Linked DNA regions of Homo sapiens. Changing the gene in region 1 together with any one later gene gives a genetic interaction. Each region holds a gene or a part of one and is shown on either strand. Other genes may lie near its edges. The genes, in order: PRKCZ and TFF1.

Evidence for each region.
Region 2: of PRKCZ (region 1) and TFF1, changing one enhances a phenotype caused by changing the other (phenotypic enhancement), as found in Homo sapiens cells (one study listed by BioGRID).

The regions. Positions count from the first base shown.
Region 1 is NC_000001.11:2,143,231-2,151,955, forward strand, and holds part of PRKCZ (protein kinase C zeta type), read left to right. Parts: intron 1-979; coding exon 980-1,111; intron 1,112-2,156; exon of another isoform or gene 2,157-2,281; intron 2,282-2,796; coding exon 2,797-2,878; exon of another isoform or gene 2,879-3,075; intron 3,076-5,641; coding exon 5,642-5,694; intron 5,695-7,559; coding exon 7,560-7,748; intron 7,749-8,725. UniProt on the Homo sapiens protein: Calcium- and diacylglycerol-independent serine/threonine-protein kinase that functions in phosphatidylinositol 3-kinase (PI3K) pathway and mitogen-activated protein (MAP) kinase cascade, and is involved in NF-kappa-B activation, mitogenic signaling, cell proliferation, cell polarity, inflammatory response and maintenance of long-term potentiation (LTP).
Region 2 is NC_000021.9:42,362,823-42,371,480, reverse strand, and holds the start of TFF1 (trefoil factor 1 precursor), read left to right. Parts: upstream 1-4,945; 5' UTR 4,946-4,985; coding exon 4,986-5,070; intron 5,071-6,368; exon of another isoform or gene 6,369-8,073; coding exon 8,074-8,226; exon of another isoform or gene 8,227-8,251; intron 8,252-8,658. UniProt on the Homo sapiens protein: Stabilizer of the mucous gel overlying the gastrointestinal mucosa that provides a physical barrier against various noxious agents. May inhibit the growth of calcium oxalate crystals in urine.

The DNA.
Region 1 (8,725 bases):
GTGTTAGCCAGGATGGTCTCAATCTCCTGACCTCCTGATCCACCCGCCTCGGCCTCCCCAAGTGCTGGGATTACAGGCGTGAGCCACCACGCCCGGCCTATATTTCCTCGTCTTAACTCAGGTGTGAGGTGAGCTCTGTAATAGGAAGGAAATTTGTGAAAAATGGTAAAAGAGGGAAAAGCATATGAAAGGGCTGTGTCTGGAAAGAATCTGAATTGGAGGCTCTGGGCACATGGTGACAGTGCAGATGCACCCCTTTACTCCCAGGAACACTTTGGGCACTTAGGCAAGGCAGAAAATGTCCAAGCAGGTCCCGACAACATTCATTCTCATGCCTTTTGTAACATTTAAACGTTCATGAAAACATCGCCAAACAAGCTGATAATTACCATCATTTTGGAATTGTTCAGAACCATGAAGAATAAAGAAGGATCATTTAAAATCTTGAAAAATACTGAACAAAGAATACTAAGATAATTGCAGGCTGCCATGTAGCAGTTCAAGATGTTCATGAGTCCGAGTTCCCCTTCTCTGAGGCTGTCAGGAGGAGGTTCTGTTTGAATGAAGGTCAGGCAGGGGGTACCCCCACACACTCTGCTTAGCCCTAGACGGGACCCCAGGCTGCTCTACGCAGAGCGCAGCAGGAGCTGCAGCCCCCCAGCCCCTGCAAGCCACGGGGCCTTGCCTGAAGCAGCACCTCGTCACCCCTGCCCGATGGCACCTCCCCTGTGTCCCCTCATGCAGAGCAGGGTTCCAGGCCTCTCCTTGGGGCCACTGGTTCCCCCAACCTTGGGATAGACCCAAGAGGAGGCTCTCAAGCTTGGGCAAGCCTGGCGCCCGGAAGGGACAAGGTGCCGGGGCCACCTGTTGCCCGGCTCAGTGTCCTCTTTTGAGAAGGTATAGGTGTGGAAGGCCCTGCCTGTCCTCTCCGCTGGCCCCTCAGTGTGGCCTGGGCCTGACGCTCTGTTCCCACCTGCAGAGAGCGTACTGCGGTCAGTGCAGCGAGAGGATATGGGGCCTCGCGAGGCAAGGCTACAGGTGCATCAACTGCAAACTGCTGGTCCATAAGCGCTGCCACGGCCTCGTCCCGCTGACCTGCAGGAAGCATATGGTGAGTGGCAGGGCTGGGGAGGCCCGGGGGGCACGGGCGGGGTCGGGGCGTGGCAGCCAGCCCATTGTCCAAGCAGACCTTGGTGACCCTGGGTTCTTCAAGAGGGGCCGTGGTGCCGTCCTAGCTCTGGGCTGCAGCGTGAGACTCAGGCGGCAGTCTTGGATAGGACCCATCTTCCTGAGCCCCCACAAGCCCCCGGCACACTCTGCTCATTGGGGCATGAGGCTCAGGCAGCAGGCTCAGGTAGGACGTGGTACGCTCTGCTCAGTGGGTCGGAGGTAAGGTTCATTCATACCCCAGTCTTGAACCAGCTCTTAAGGACTGTGGAGGTGAAAGCCAGGTCTGACCTAGTAGCATTGGGCACGCTGAGGCTCCGAACATCTGGAGCCTCTCCCTGGCATCCCCCCTGGGAAGCCATGCCCAGCCTGTGATGAGGGCGGCACCTTCCCTCCGCCATCCCCGAGTGCTTGGACTTGAAGCATCCAGGCCTTTGGGGGCCTTATTGACTTTTGCTTATTGAAGGCTGCCTCTGGCATTTCCGTGTGGCCCCCTGCATCCCACTGAACCACGGGGGTGAGGCCTGGACTGAACATTCAACTCCCTGGGCCCTGCTGCAGCGTGCAGTGGGTGTGTCTGGGGAGGGTGGCTTGTCTGCATCTTGCTGTGGCATGGGAGGAAAGGCGCCTGTGGCAGTGACGTGCCCTCTCCTCTGTTACGGGATAAAGACAGAGTCTGGATCAGGGTGTCACCCCAGGATCACCAGCCACAGGGATGGGGGACCACGCAGGCTGGTGCATGCGTTGGCACAGTCCTTCCAGAGGTCCTTCAGCTGCATCTGCCAAAAAGCCTGTAATGCCCTTTGACCTCATAGGTCCACTTTAGCGTAAGCAAATGAGACCGGCCCCAGAAATGTGGTCAGCTAGAGGCGGAGGGAGGCCAGAGCCTGCCACCCAGCTGACCACCAGTACTGGTGGCTCCATTATGACATATCTGCAGGCGGAACCCAGAGGCCCTTAGAATGGCCCCCTGATGCTTGGTTACTGACAGGATGCAGCTTTGGGACAGGGGAGATGACCAAGCATTGTGCAAAATATCCCGTTGTATAAAGCACTTGGTGGAAAGGTCATGGCCTGCAGTACCGAGTGGCCACCTCCGTCTGCAGAATCATAGGTAATGTTTATGTTCTTTATCTAATTCAGTAAAATAGCATAACAATTAGATTTTTATATACTATATTACAGTATACCCATTGTAATGTGTAAATATGTAAATCATAAATAGTCTTGAAGTGGCCAGGTGCAGAGGCTCACACCTGTAATCCCAACACTTTGGGAGGCCAAGGTGGGAAGATCACTTGAGGCCAGGAGTTCAAGACCAGCCTGAGCAATATGGTGAGACCCCATCTCTACAAAAAAAATACAAAAATTAGCCAGGCATGGTGGTGCGCACCTGTAGTGCCCGCTGCTCTGGAAGCTGAGGCGGGAGGATTGCTCGAGCTCAGGAGGTTGAAGCTGCAGTGAGCCGTGATCGCGCCACTGCTCTCCAGCCTGGATGATGACAGACTGTGACCCTGTCTGTAAAAAAAAGTTCTTAATTTTAAAAAGTCACAAAGTGTTTACAGAAGCTACATTGTAACACCTGCTCTAGCACTTGGTCATGCTGCCATCTCTGTGTCTCTCCGGCAGGATTCTGTCATGCCTTCCCAAGAGCCTCCAGTAGACGACAAGAACGAGGACGCCGACCTTCCTTCCGAGGAGACAGATGGAAGTAGGCGCTGCTTTCTTCCGGCCGGGTAGAGCCTGGGCATCACCTCACCCTGCTCACCTCTGCCTTCTAGCCACGAGTCCTTTCTCAGTCCCATCTGCTCTGCAGGGGTCATTGTCTTCAAGCCTGGCCACCCTTCCCTGGGGCTGGGGATGAGGCTCTCCAGGGCCTCCTCTCAATCCCCGGCAGAGATGAGCAGGGTGAGCTGGCCCTCCCTGGAGGCTGCTGGGCAGGGATGCCTCCGTGAAGTGCTGTTGTGGTTGCCCAGGGGTGCAGAGCCTCTTCCTCTAACCAGCTCCGGGAGTTCTCGAAGGCACTTAGTGCAGCAGCCACCATGGCCGGGCACCTCCCACAATCTGGCTGCTGCACAGAGCTGAGCCCTATCTGGGGAAAGCCTGGCGAGGTGGCTGCTGCACACACAGCGTGGCAGTGGCATGGTCCTTGGATTTTTGTGAGGTTTTGTTTGTTGTGGGGAAGGACTTGTTTTATTGCTAAGAAGCATTCAGAGAGAGATCTCAAACACCAGTTGGACTTACAGCCCAGGTTTGAGCCTCCACACCTGCACCTCTGCACGGGGGTGTGAGAGCCTCACTTTCACTTGATGCATGTGAGTTCTGTCTCATTGGGAGACCACAGAACATAAAGCACTTATGAGACCACAGAACATAAAGCACTTAGTTCACACAGTGCCTCACGCAAAAGAGATGCCTCACAAACAACTGCCTGCCCACCTGCTCCTCCACCCACCTATCCTCTATACAGATATTCATCCGTACATCATCCATTCACCCACCTAGCCAACCAACCAGCCCTCATCCAGCCAACCAGCCATCCTCCACCCGCCCATTCTCCATCCATCCACCACCTATCCATCTATCCACGATCCATCCATCTCGTCATCCAGCCAGCCAGCCAGCCATCCTCCACCCACCCATCCTCCAGCTATCTTCCATTCGTTCATCTGTTGTCCACTGACCTCTCCATCTATCCATGTATCTATTGTCCACTGACCTCTCCATCTATCCATCTATTGTCCACTGACCTCTCCGTCTATCCGTCTATTGTCCACTGACCTCTCCATCCAACCGTCTATTGTCCACTGACCTCTCCATCTATCCATCCATCTTTTGTCCACTGACGTCTCCATCTATCCATCTGTCTGTTGTCCACTGACCTCTCCACCCATCTATCTGTTGTCCACTGACCTCTCCATCTTTCCATCTGTTGTCCACTGACCTCTCCATCTATCCATCTATTGTCCACTGACCTCTCTATCTATCCATCTATTGTTCACTGACCTCTCCTTCCATCTATCTGTTGTCCACTGACCTCTCCATCTATCCATCTATCTTGTCCACTGACGTCTCCATCTATCCACACATCTGTTGTCCACTGACGTCTCCATCTGTTCATCTATCTGTTGTCCACTGACCTCTCCACCCATCTGTCTGTTGTCCACTGACCTCTCCATCTTTCCGTCTATTGTCCACTGACCTTTCCATCTATCCAGCTATTGTCCACTGACCTCTCCATCTATCCATCCATCTATTGTCCACTGACGTCTCCATCTGTCCATCTATCTGTTGTCCACTGACCTGTCCACCCATCTGTCTGTTGTCCACTGACCTCTCCATCTATCCATCCACTGTCCACTGACCTCTCCATCTATCCATCCATTGTCCACTGACCTCTCCATCTATCCATCCATCTATTGTCCACTGACGTCTCCATCTGTCCATCTATCTGTTGTCCACTGACCTGTCCACCCATCTGTCTGTAGTCCACTGACCTCTCCATCTTTCCGTCTGTTGTCCACTGACCTCTCCGTCTATCCATCTATCTATTGTCCACTGACCTCTCCATCTATCCATCTATTGTCCACTGACCTCTCCATCTATCCATCCATCTATTGTCCACTGACCTCTCCATCTATCCATCCACTGTCCACTGACCTCTCCATCTATCCATCCATCTATTGTCTACTGACCTCTCCATCTATCCATCCATCTATTGTCCACTGACGTCTCCATCTATCCATCTGTCTGTTGTCCACTGACCTGTCCACCCATCTGTCTGTTGTCCACTGACCTCTCCATCTTTCCGTCTGTTGTCCACTGACCTCTCCGTCTATCCATCTATCTGTTGTCCACTGACCTCTCCATCTATCCATCTATTGTCCACTGACCTCTCCATCTATCCATCCATCTATTGTCCACTGACCTCTCCATCTGTCCATCCACTGTCCACTGACCTCTCCATCTATCCACCTATTGTCCACTGACCTCTCCGTCTATCCATCCATCTATTGTCCACTAACCTCTCCATCTATCCATCCATCTATTGTCCACTGACCTCTCCATCTATCCATCCATTGTGCACTGACCTCTCCATCTATCCGTCTTCTATCCAGGCCTCCATTCATCCCCCATCTAGTCATCCTCCATCCATCCACCAGACATCCACTCCTGCCCCTACCCACCCATTCACTAGACACCAAAATCCGGTGACGAATTATTTGCAGATGGACCCCTGGGGACGTATGTCACGAATGTACATCCCCAGGTCCCATGGTCAGAGTCGGCAGGTGTGAGTGGGGCCCAGGAAACTGCATTTTCAGAAGACTCTAAATTAGAATCAGACATGGCTGCTGTGTGGATTCACCCTTCACCGTCACCCTGCAGAGGAGCAAGGTCCACAGGGTCGCTGTGTTCCCAGTGCGTTCCTGACCACACCGTAACGCCCCTTCCTTCCTCCCTCTCTCACCAGTTGCTTACATTTCCTCATCCCGGAAGCATGACAGCATTAAAGACGACTCGGAGGTGAGTGTGTGGAGCAGCTCGCTGCCATTTCCGACGTCCTCTGGAAAGTCTGTGAGCCTGTCTCTGGGGTAGTCACGGAAATCTAGATGTGAAATAGACATGGTCCGGGGTGTTGCTAACTAATCTTCACGGGTGTGGATGTCTAGAAGGAAGTCCTTATTCTTGGGTCTTACTTCAGGCATGTCCTTGATGAATACCTGCAGGCAGCTGTCCCCGCAGGTGGTCTGGGGACCACACCCTGCGGGGGAAGCCGTGCCCCACATCCTCTCCATTCAGGTGGTACAGTGGCCCAGGGGCTGGCTTTTGAGCTGCAATTTTTATCAAGTTGTGTCTGCACCATGCCTTCCGAATTGTGTTGCCTCATTTGGCCATCCTGGCAAACCCTCTGAAGCCCTTTCATGTCCTTCCCCAACTTGAGCCAAGAGGCTCAACTGAGCCTCACGTCTGTGGCCAGCTCTGCACCATAAACCCTGAGAAGGGAACAGAAGAGCTTGCTGCGTTCTCAGCCTCTGCTCGTAAAACCCAGGGAAGGACTGCACTAGCGAAGCCCACTCCTTTCCAGAGCACCAACAAGTGTCACCCTCACAACTCGTGCTCCTTCCTGGCCATCCTGTGTCTGGAGGGAGGCCGGGGCACTTAGAAAGCAGAATCTGAGGCTGAGCACGGCGACTCACACCTCCAATCCCAGCATTTTGGGAGGCTGCGCACATCGCTTGAGTCCAGGAGCTCGAGAACAGCCTGGGCAGCATAGCGAGACCCTGTTCCTACAAAAATAAATACAAAATAATTAGCTGGGCATGGTGGCACGGGCCTGTGGTCCTAGCTGCTTGGGAGGCTGAGGTGGGAGGATCGCCTGAGCCTGGGAGGTGGAGGCTGCAGTGAGCTGAGATCGCACCACTGCACTCCAGCCTGGGCGACAGAGGAAGAGTCTGTCTCAAAAAAAGCAGAATCCGGCTGGGCGCGGTGGCTCACGCCTGTAATCCCAGCACTTTGGGAAGCTGAGGCGGGCAGATCACGAGGTCAGGAGATGGAGACCATCCTGGCTAACACGGTGAAACCCCGTCTCTACTAAAAATACAAAAAAAAAAAAAGCTGGGCGTGGTGGCGGGCGCCTGTAGTCCCAGCTACTGGGGAGGCTGAGGCAGGAGAATGGCGTGAACCCGGGAGGTGGAGCTTGTAGTGAGTCGAGATCGTGCCACTGCACTCCAGCCTGGGCGACAGAGCCAGACTCCGTCTCAAAAAAAAAAAAAAAAAAAAAGCAGAATCCATTTTGCCGCACAGAACAGCACCTCCCAAGGAACCGCCTCCTCCACCCCGACCTCCTTGCCAGGTGTAGCTTGCGGGAGGCAGAGGCTTCTGTTCTTCCTCGGAGCGCCTTTCTCCTGGGTATTTCTAATAATTATTTCTAATAATGTGTGCCTGCCGGTTTGGGAGCTCTTGGCAGGCATTAGCTGCATTCGCTTTACCTTCCTTCCCCTGAGGGAGGGCACTGATCAGGAAGGATGGGCCCAGGCCCTGGGCCACATGTCCCTGTGGCCACCTCTTCAGCCCCACTGATAGGGCTGAGGGCCTGGGGGTCCCTCCCACCTGCAGCTGTGACCAGAGCCATGGTCTGTGGAACGAACAGCTTCTAGCTTTCTAGCACCTTCCTCAGAAGCACACAGCCTTAAATTCTTACCTTTCATGCCCCAGTTTAGATGGGAGTTTGGGGGTGGGATATGTGGGACGCAGAACTGAGACTCGAATCATGAGGCCCTGGGCTCTGAGGAGCAGGTCTCTGTTGGGACCGCATGAGTGATGCGTGGTCCTCTGAGTCTCCCGGGAACCCCCCTCTCACTTTCTGGGGTCTTGTTCTCCCTCCCTAGGACCTTAAGCCAGTTATCGATGGGATGGATGGAATCAAAATCTCTCAGGGGCTTGGGCTGCAGGACTTTGACCTAATCAGAGTCATCGGGCGCGGGAGCTACGCCAAGGTTCTCCTGGTGCGGTTGAAGAAGAATGACCAAATTTACGCCATGAAAGTGGTGAAGAAAGAGCTGGTGCATGATGACGAGGTAGGTGCCGCTTCTCATGGGGCCCGGGGGCCCGGGAACGCGCTGCCCTGGGGCCTCCTCCGGGCTTTAGCGGAATTAATCCATGCACGAGAGACCTAGCCTCACGTTGACGGAGTTTGTGCAAAATCAATAGTCATGCATCGTGTAATGACCAGGATGTGTTCTGGAAAGTGCCTGGTTAGGTAATGGCACTGTTGTGTGAACATCACAGTGTGCACTCCACAAACCCAAACAGCACAGCCAACTCCACAGCCAAGATGCACAGTGCAGCTCCTGCTCCCAGGCTGCAAGCCCGTACGGCTGTTAGTGCACTGCACACTGCAGGCAGTGAGGGGACCACCACGAGAGCACTCACGTGTCTAAGCTTAGAAAAGGTGAAGATGGGTATCGTGGTCTCTGCAACCTTCTCATGTATGGCCAACCACTGATACGTTGCCTTCCAGCAGACTGCGGTTGAGTTTTAGGATGTCATCACCCTTGTTAGGAAATCTCTGGGGTTGAGCTGAACTGGACGGGTGATGGGGTGGGACAGGAAGCTGCCCAGAGGCACTGCCCTGCTCCGTCCTGCACAAGGCCCCAGCTTTGCAGTACATGCTGAGCTGCCGTGGCTCTGTGTAGCAGATCTTCCCACACCAGCTGTTTCTAGGGGAGAAGTTTGTTGATTATAGGATCAATGGTTTATTTGTTGAAATCTTTTTTTTTGGAAACGGTCTTACTCTGTCACCCAGACTGGAGTGGCTTGATCACAGCCCACTATAGCCTCAAAGTCCCCAGCTCAGGTGATCCTCCCACTTCAGCCTCTGGAGTGTTGGGACTACAGGCATGAGCCACCACCCCCAGCTGTATAATTTTTGTATTTTTTGTAGAGGCAGTGTCTCATTCTGTTACCCAGGCTGGAGGGCAGAGCATGATCACGGTTCACCTCCTGCAGCCTCCACCTCCTCCTGCAGCCTCCACCTCCTGCTAGGCTGAGGTGA
Region 2 (8,658 bases), on another chromosome or scaffold:
GCTGGAGGGTGTGAGACCTGGATGGAGGGTCTCAGTGGTGGCAGTAGTGTGTGAGCAGTGGCCGGAGAGTGTGAGTGGTGGTCAGAGGGAGTGCACGGTGGCCAGAGAGCATAAGTGGTGACTGGATGGTATGAGCGGTGGCTGGACGGTGTGAGCCATGGCCGGAGGTTTTGAGTGGCACCCGAAGGGTGTGGCCGGAGGGAGTGAGCTCTGGCTGGAGGGAGTGGCCAGTGGCAGGAAGGTGTGAGCAATGGCCAGATGGTGTGAGGGGTGGTCAGAGGGAGTAAGCGGTGGCTTGAGGGAGTGAGTGGTGGCCAGAGGGTGTGAGTGGTGGCTGAAGGGTGTGGGCTGTGGCCGGAGGGAGTGAGCAGTGATCAGATATGGGACCTGGACGGAGGGTTTGAGCGGTGGCTGGAGGGTGTGGGCAGTGGCTGGAGGGTGTGGGTGGTGACTGGAGGGAATGAGCAGTGGCCACAGGATGTAAGACCTGAACGGAGGGTTGGAGTGGTGGCTGTAGTGTGTGAGCAGTGGCTGGAGGGTGTGAGTGGTCGTTGGAGGGAGTGATCCCTGACTGGAGGGACTGAGCAGTGACCGGAGGGTGTGATTGGTGGCCAGAAGGAGTTGGCGGTGGCTGGAGGGTGTGAGCGGTGTCCGGAGGGAGTGGATGGTGTCTGGAGGGTGTACCACCAAGGACGCCTTTCTGATCGTCCTGCGTCCATGCTCAGTCCTGGATCTCCTCTTCCCTTTCTGGGTGTGTGTGGCTCTGGAAGAAGCTGGCTAACCTGACGAGGTTACCGCCCTACTGTCACCATGGAAGCATAGCGCCTCAGCCACTCTCCCTGGAGGAGCCTGGCCTCACACTCCAATCATTCCCCTCTCCTTCTGGGTTAATTTGAGGAATGTGGTCCCGCTCCATGCTGTGGGTCTGTGCCTCAAGTTCCCTGGCCAGGAAAGTACCTGCCTCCTCCAATACCTGAGGACCCCAACCCCAGGGCCTCAGCTGGGTGTCCTTGTAAAGGGTCCCTGGGGTGGCAGTTGCTTTTTTGACCAGAGGCCTGGCAGGAAACGGGCTTCACCACAGCGGATCTGGGCAATGCGAGGAGAGTGAAGACTGTAAAAGTCTCCTTGCGGCTGGTAAACCCCCCAGGCTGGGGCAGGGGGGTGAGGGGTCTGCTCTGGGGCCTGGGGAAGATGGTGTGTGGAGAGGACGCCCACCTGGGCTGTGGCTGAGAGGGGGACGTGGCCTGTCCCAGGTGATCCCAGGAGGGATCCTGGAGGAGAGCCCGGATCCACTTCCTCCCAAACTCCTCCCTCCCTCCAGGGCCACCTACAGAACCCCCTCCTGCCAAGGCACAGGTCAGGGGCAGCGGGCAGGTGGGGAGCGTCAGGAGGAGACTGACTCCCCAACTGCGCGTCCCCCTTGTGGGGAATCTGGGCGGCTGCGGGGCCCCCCACTGAAAATGAGGGGCTCTCGCCAGACCGCAGGGAGGTCGGCTGGGCGCAGGAAACAAGCAATGCCTGCACAGCCACAGACGCCCCCACGGCCATAGATGCCTGCCGGAGAGGGTCTGAGGTGCGGAGTCTTCAGATGTCCTGTGGCCCAGCCACTGCGTCTTTCAGATAAGAAAACTAAGACCCAGAGCTGTGAAAATGCTGGCACAGGGTCCCCCACTGATGATGGACTGGCGCTTGCCTCTGCATTCTCTCCCTCGCCACACTGGAATTGTCTTCAACAAGTTTTTATGGATAAGGTTATGTATGGTGTGGTCTTGGGTTCCGCCCACTCTCACAGGGATAAAGCTCTTGTCCCGAGAAACGGAGAGTCCCGGGGGCAGCTCCAGCCGCTCCAACCCTAATGTGGGAGGCCAAACTCCGGCACTTGGTAGTTATCTCACAGCTCTCCCAAGGAGATAGGAGCTGGGCTTTCCAAGAAAGCAATTGCAAACATGTACAGAATGCTAGAACAACATCCGTGAATCTACGCTGCCCCTCATTAATGGATGCTAACCTTTTTACCTTATTTCCCTCAGATTTTCTTCAACAAAAGAAAACATTACGGAGACATCGAAGGCCCCTTTGCGCCCTACCCCGCCACCTTTTCCTGCTTCCTCCTTCCTAGACAGACCCATCATGCTGAAGTCAGTGTCTCGTTCCTGTCTACACTGTCATCATTTTGTTCATCTGGATGCAGTTCCAACAGTATATCACATTGTTTCACATAGTTTGGAAATCTACATTATAAATGATATCCTACTTTACAAACCATTTTAACGGATTTTTTCACTTCGCTTTGTTTTCAATATTTCTCATTATTTATTCATTTTCATCTTCTGAAAGATACTCACATACATACATATATAATATATGTAAAGTATAATACATGTATGCAATTAGTTCTCTATATTCATGGGTTCTACATCCATGGATTCCAGTAATGTCAGATCAAAACTGTTTTAAAATCCAGCTGGGCACAGTGGCTCACACTTGTAATCCCAGCACTTTGGGAGGCTGAGGCGGGTGCATCACCTGAGGTCAGGAGTTCGAGACCAGCCTGGCCAACATGGTGAAGCCCTGTCTCTACTAAAAACACAAAAATTAGCTGGGCGTGGTGGCACATGCCTGTAATCCCAGCTACTCAGGAGGCTGAGGCAGGAGAATCACTTAAACCTGGGAGGTGGAGGTTGCAGTAAGCTGAGATCATGCCACCGCACTCCAGCCTGGGCGACAGAGCAAGACTCTGTCTCAAAAAAAAAAAGTATTTTAAAATCTTATTTACAACATCTTAAAGATCAAAACTTGGGTGTGCCGCAAGTCAAGTACTATGTAGAATCTGCAGAATGAAATGAGGTGTAGGTATTGCATCAGGTATTATAACTAACCTAGAGATGGTTAAAGTGTAGGAGAGGATGCACGTGGTTTCTGCGCACTATGTCATTTTATACCAGGGACTTGAGCATTTGTGGATTTTGGCATCCCTGGGTGGGGGGTCCTGAAACCAGTCCCCCAGGGGTACTAAGGGACGACTGCATTGTATTTTAAGTTCATTTTCCCTTTCCCTGGTTAATGAATATTTATTTTGCTTTTCTTTCCCTCCTTTCCTTCCTTCCTTCTTTCCCTGTTTCCAGCTGTTACAAACAATGCTAAAAAGAATATCTTTGCCTGTGTTTTCTTCTGCCCAAGTATGAACATGTTTCTGGGATTAAGAGACCAGGCCTGGAAACAGAAGAATTTGCTGAGCTGTAAAATCTGTATGGCTTAAACCTCACCGAACACTGCCCACCTTTTCTCCAAATGATTGTGCAATTTACATCCCATTTCCAAGAGCCCCCATTTTGATCCGAGAAATTAGAGCAGCGAAAACCACCGTCACTATGAGCACCACCCTGGGCCTGGTGCCCCCGTCCTGTTTTCAATAAACTTAAGCTGACCACAGAGGACACCAGGCCTCGGCCCCTCCCTGGGTCCTGCGGTCAGGCCCCTCCTGGAGACCCTGGCCCAGGAGTGGAGACCCCGGTGCAGGAGTGGCAGCCCTGGAGGAGGGGCTGGGTCCTGGGATGGAGCGAAGAGGAACATGGCCGCCCCCATTCTGGCCCAGGCTCCCCTCCCAGAGGGGCTGCAGAAATGTACTGACTAGGTCACCCAAGAAAAGATAGTACCTTTGTTAGGCTAGCATGCATTTTCCTCAGGGCCTAATTTCTCACTGAAGAAGAAAAGATTTCTCCTGTTGTCCATTTCTTCATGCAGCTCTTCAACAGCTGTTTCTCGAATGCCAATCAAAGCCACTGTTCTAGGGTCTGGGGCCACCTCAAGGCACTAGGAGATGAGGACTTCTGCTCCCATGCGCCCTCCCGTCTGCTGCAGGGAGGAGTGCAATGAATAAATAACCAACATAATGTGTCAGTCACTTGTTTTATCCACCAGGAGGTAATAAGAGCTATGAAAGAGAAAGCTCCGAGCAGGGGAGGGGAGTGAGGCATGGTACAGGAGAGCAGGAGGCTGTCCTCTAAAATACAGGAGTCCAGGGGACCAACTGGGAAGGTGTGGGAGGGGGAGGGAGGGAGCCCCATAGACACAGGGGAGTGAACCACGTTCACTTTGTCAGTTTTTGATGGCAGCTCGTATATACTATTTTTTTCTCCCTCCTGCCCCCAGCCCCTCCCAGAAGGAGACTTAATCTGTCGCTCAGGCTGGAGTGCAGTAGGGTGATCTCGACTCACTGCAACCTCCGCCTCCCAGGTTCAAGTGATTCTCCTGACTTAACCTCCAGAGTAGCTAGGATTACAGGCACCCGCCACCATGCCTGGCTAATTTTTGTATTTTTTTTTTTTGTAGAGACGGGGTTTCGCCATGTTGGCCAGGCTAGTCTCAAACTCCTGACTTTAAGTGATCCGCCTGCTTTGGCCTCCCAAAGTGTTGGGATTACAGGCGTGAGCCACTGCGCCAGGCCTACAATTTCATTATTAAAACAATTCCACTGTAAAAGAATTAGCTTAGGCCTAGACGGAATGGGCTTCATGAGCTCCTTCCCTTCCCCCTGCAAGGTCACGGTGGCCACCCCGTGAGCCACTGTTGTCACGGCCAAGCCTTTTTCCGGCCATCTCTCACTATGAATCACTTCTGCAGTGAGTACAGTATTTACCCTGGCGGGAGGGCCTCTCAGATATGAGTAGGACCTGGATTAAGGTCAGGTTGGAGGAGACTCCCATGGGAAAGAGGGACTTTCTGAATCTCAGATCCCTCAGCCAAGATGACCTCACCACATGTCGTCTCTGTCTATCAGCAAATCCTTCCATGTAGCTTGACCATGTCTAGGAAACACCTTTGATAAAAATCAGTGGAGATTATTGTCTCAGAGGATCCCCGGGCCTCCTTAGGCAAATGTTATCTAACGCTCTTTAAGCAAACAGAGCCTGCCCTATAAAATCCGGGGCTCGGGCGGCCTCTCATCCCTGACTCGGGGTCGCCTTTGGAGCAGAGAGGAGGCAATGGCCACCATGGAGAACAAGGTGATCTGCGCCCTGGTCCTGGTGTCCATGCTGGCCCTCGGCACCCTGGCCGAGGCCCAGACAGGTAAGGCGTGCTTCTTCCTGCTCTGTGGGGCCACAGCCAGCTCTGGCAGCCTCCGCCAGGAGCCACTGTTTTACATACATATTTTTGAGCACCTGTTTTGTGCCAGGTGCTGTTCTAGGCCCTTAAAAGTATATCCAATTTACAGGATCGGCAAAAGCAGGTGGAGAGTAACTCAGGGTGGCAGGGCCCCCGGAGACCTTCGAGAAGTGCGACGAGGAGGGGGCTGCCTTCAGTCGGGGCTGTTTTCCTGTGTTAGGAAGACTATACAATCCTCCCAAGTGTCATGTTTCAAAGAGGAAGTGTTGGCGTGGGGTCTCAGAATAGTGCTTTTGACTGTTCATGCCAACATCTCCCCCAGGGGCAGACCCTCCCAAGGCCCATCCAGATAGGCCCAAATGCCGGTCCCAGTGATGGCCACCTGGGAGACCCTCTCCCACAGGCCCGAATGCCCGTCCCAGTGGTGGCCAACTGGGAGACCCTCTCCTACAGGTTCCTGGGCTCCCCTGGGATCCATGCTCTGGGAGTCAAAGCCACCTCTCTCATGAGTGCGTGGCTGGCAACCCATATTCCCTGGTGTTGTCAAGTGGATCGGTTGCCCTGGGTCCTTCTAGGGAGTGGAGGAGGAGGCCATTCTTGCTTCCTTGGGAAGTGTTTGCATCTCAACTCCTTTACCTGCAGAATGGATCAACGGTCTGCCCTAGGGCTGTCAGGAAATGCTGTGTGGCAGCATCTGCGACTTGCACTTTGCCAGCTGTGGGGAGCTGAATAACTTATTTGCCGTTATTAGGTACAGTTTCAAGGTGGGGGCAGGAGAAAGGGCTTTCTACGTTTCCAAAGCAAGGGTTTCCAGAGAGGCCTGAAGAGGGAGCGCCCAGTGGTGCTGTCCGTGCCCCCACTGCCCTCCAGCCACCTCTTGATCTCTGCTGTGGGGTACCGGGCCTGAGGGGTGGGCTTGGGCAGCGTAGAAGAGCAGCCAGCATTGGGCTGCAGTGGGAAGACCCCCAAGCCCATGGCAGGGAGCGGGGGAGCTTTGGAACCCGAGAGAGGAAGTGGCCTCGGTGTACAGAACGAACTGGGTGGGTCCCCGTGCTGGCCACCCCCAGGCCCATCTGCCTGCGCCCTTGCCCCCACCCCAGCCCCCAGCTCTGCCCCCTGTGCTGTGGGATCACAGAGGCCGTGGCAAACTCCCCTCCCCACCCCACACACCCTCTGGCTCAAGGCTCAGAGCGTCTTTGCGGGTCACTCAGGTCCATGATCCTGTTACAACTGAAATCTAGAAAATTGTGATTACAGTTTAGTGCATTCGTGTGTGGAAACCATTTCCATTTATTTCCATCATGCGACAAAGACAAAGCGGGTGGGCAAGACAGAGTCTGCCGGAGGCAGAGCACCGGGGCTGGAAATCTTCCTCCCTGAGGAGGAAACCCCCCCGACCCCCAGGATGATGATCCTCCCTCACCACGGGGCCTCTCTTGACCCCCACAGTGTCCCGGGGGTGGGCGATGATCACCTTCACGTCGCGATGGATCCAGACCCCAGGAGGGCAAGGTTCCCATGGAAGCTGCTGGGCAGCGGGAGCTGAACACGGATCCTTCCCAGCAAGCCAGGAACACTTTCTCCAAAGACATCTCGAGGCAGTCCCTGATAGCAAAGCAGACAAGAGAACAGCCCCTCTCGGCCTCCCCTGGGGCGCCCTCACCTGAGCCAGTGTGGCCAGACTGAGTTCCTCCCCTCCTATGCCCCAAGGCAGGGACAGGGACCGGAGGGTGCTCTGGGCTCCTCTTTCACCCCCTGCTGCAGGCTGTCAACCACCAGATCCTAATAGGTTGCTTTCTGAGACCTTTGATTCCGCGGAGCTCAGAGCCTGAAGCTCTGGTGTTAGAACCTCTTGCATAAGATCCTGCGGCAGCCCCCAGCCAGCCCCATCTGTCCACGTGTCTTCCTCCTCTAGATCCCTTTCCTCACTGCCCTGCTTCAAGCTGTTTCACAGCTTGTACCCTCTGTCGGCTCCTCCTAGACCACCCCACCCGGTCCTCTCACCTTACCTGCAATGGGTTTCCACCTCCTGAACACACCTGGGTCTCTGGAATGGCCTTTGCCCATGCGGCTCCATCTTCACCTGGTGAACCTCCTCCTGCAGGGAGCCCCCCTGCTTTGTTCAACCTGCTTGTCATTGGCCTCTCCGGGGAGTGCCCTACCCCCGTGGTTACCCTGGGCACCCTGGGACGATGGCCTTGCGTTGTCTCGCACATGTTCTTGCCTTTCTCCTCCATCAGATCCTTAGACTCTTTTTTTTTTTTTTTTGAGATGGAGTCTTGCTCTGTCACTCAGGCTGGAGTGCAATGGTGCGATCTTGGCTCACTACAACCTCTGCCTCCTGGGTTCAAGTGATTCTCCTGCCTCAGCCTCCCAAGTAGCTGGGATTACAGACGTGTGCCACAATGCCCGCCTAATTTTTTGTATTTTTAGTAGAGATGGGGCTTCACCATTTTGGTCAGGCTGGTCTTGAACTCCTGACCTCAAGTGATTCACCTCCTTCAGCCTCCCAAAGTGCTGGGATTACAGGCATGAGCCTGGGCCCAGATATTTAGACTCTTATTAATGACTTCTCTGGTTTTAATTTCTGGGTCTCTCTCACCTGGCACAGTGCCTGGCTTTTGCCATGCTAGCTCCCACTTCTCATGCACACAAATGGTGCTCAGTAAATATTTATGTATTGAGTAAAATTTAATAATCATTTGTTGAAATTAAAAAGTGAATAAATAAGTTACCTAGAAAGATGCAAAGTCCACAAACCTGGGGCACCTTGCATTTTCCCTGAGCGTAATGTTTGCACATCAGGATGTGAGGACCACGTCTCCCTCTCATGTCCTGAGGGTTTTATATCCGCCTCACTGGACAGTTGCTGATGTCATTGGAGAAGGAAGCTGGATGGGTGTGTGCATGATAACATCAAGGAATTCAGCCCACAACTTACTTTGCTTCTTACCTGTGCACTTTCAGAGACGTGTACAGTGGCCCCCCGTGAAAGACAGAATTGTGGTTTTCCTGGTGTCACGCCCTCCCAGTGTGCAAATAAGGGCTGCTGTTTCGACGACACCGTTCGTGGGGTCCCCTGGTGCTTCTATCCTAATACCATCGACGTCCCTCCAGAAGGTATGGCCTTTTTATACGATGGGTTCTGAAGATTTAGAATTAGTTAGAAAAGTCATTTAAGACTACAGAGGCTCTGATCAGCATCACCAGCTATGCCTTTACACAGAGTCACGGCCGCCAGTGGTGGTGCAATGGGGTAGCCTGAGTCAGGCTGCATTCAGGTCCAGGAATAGAAAGGCAGGGCTAAGGGACTTGGGAAGAAACCTGATTTCCCCCCGGCTTCTCTTCACATCTCTAACCAAAAGCCTGGGAAGAGCCACTGTTGGTAACGCTTTCTAGCTTGCCTAGGATAGAGGGGGAAGGCATGACGAAATCTGAAGACATTTCATGTATTCTTTTTTTTTTTTTTTTTTTGAAATGGAGTCTCGCTCCGTTGCCCCTGAGCTGGAGTGCAATGGTGCGATCTTGGCTCACTGCAATCTCTGCCTCCTG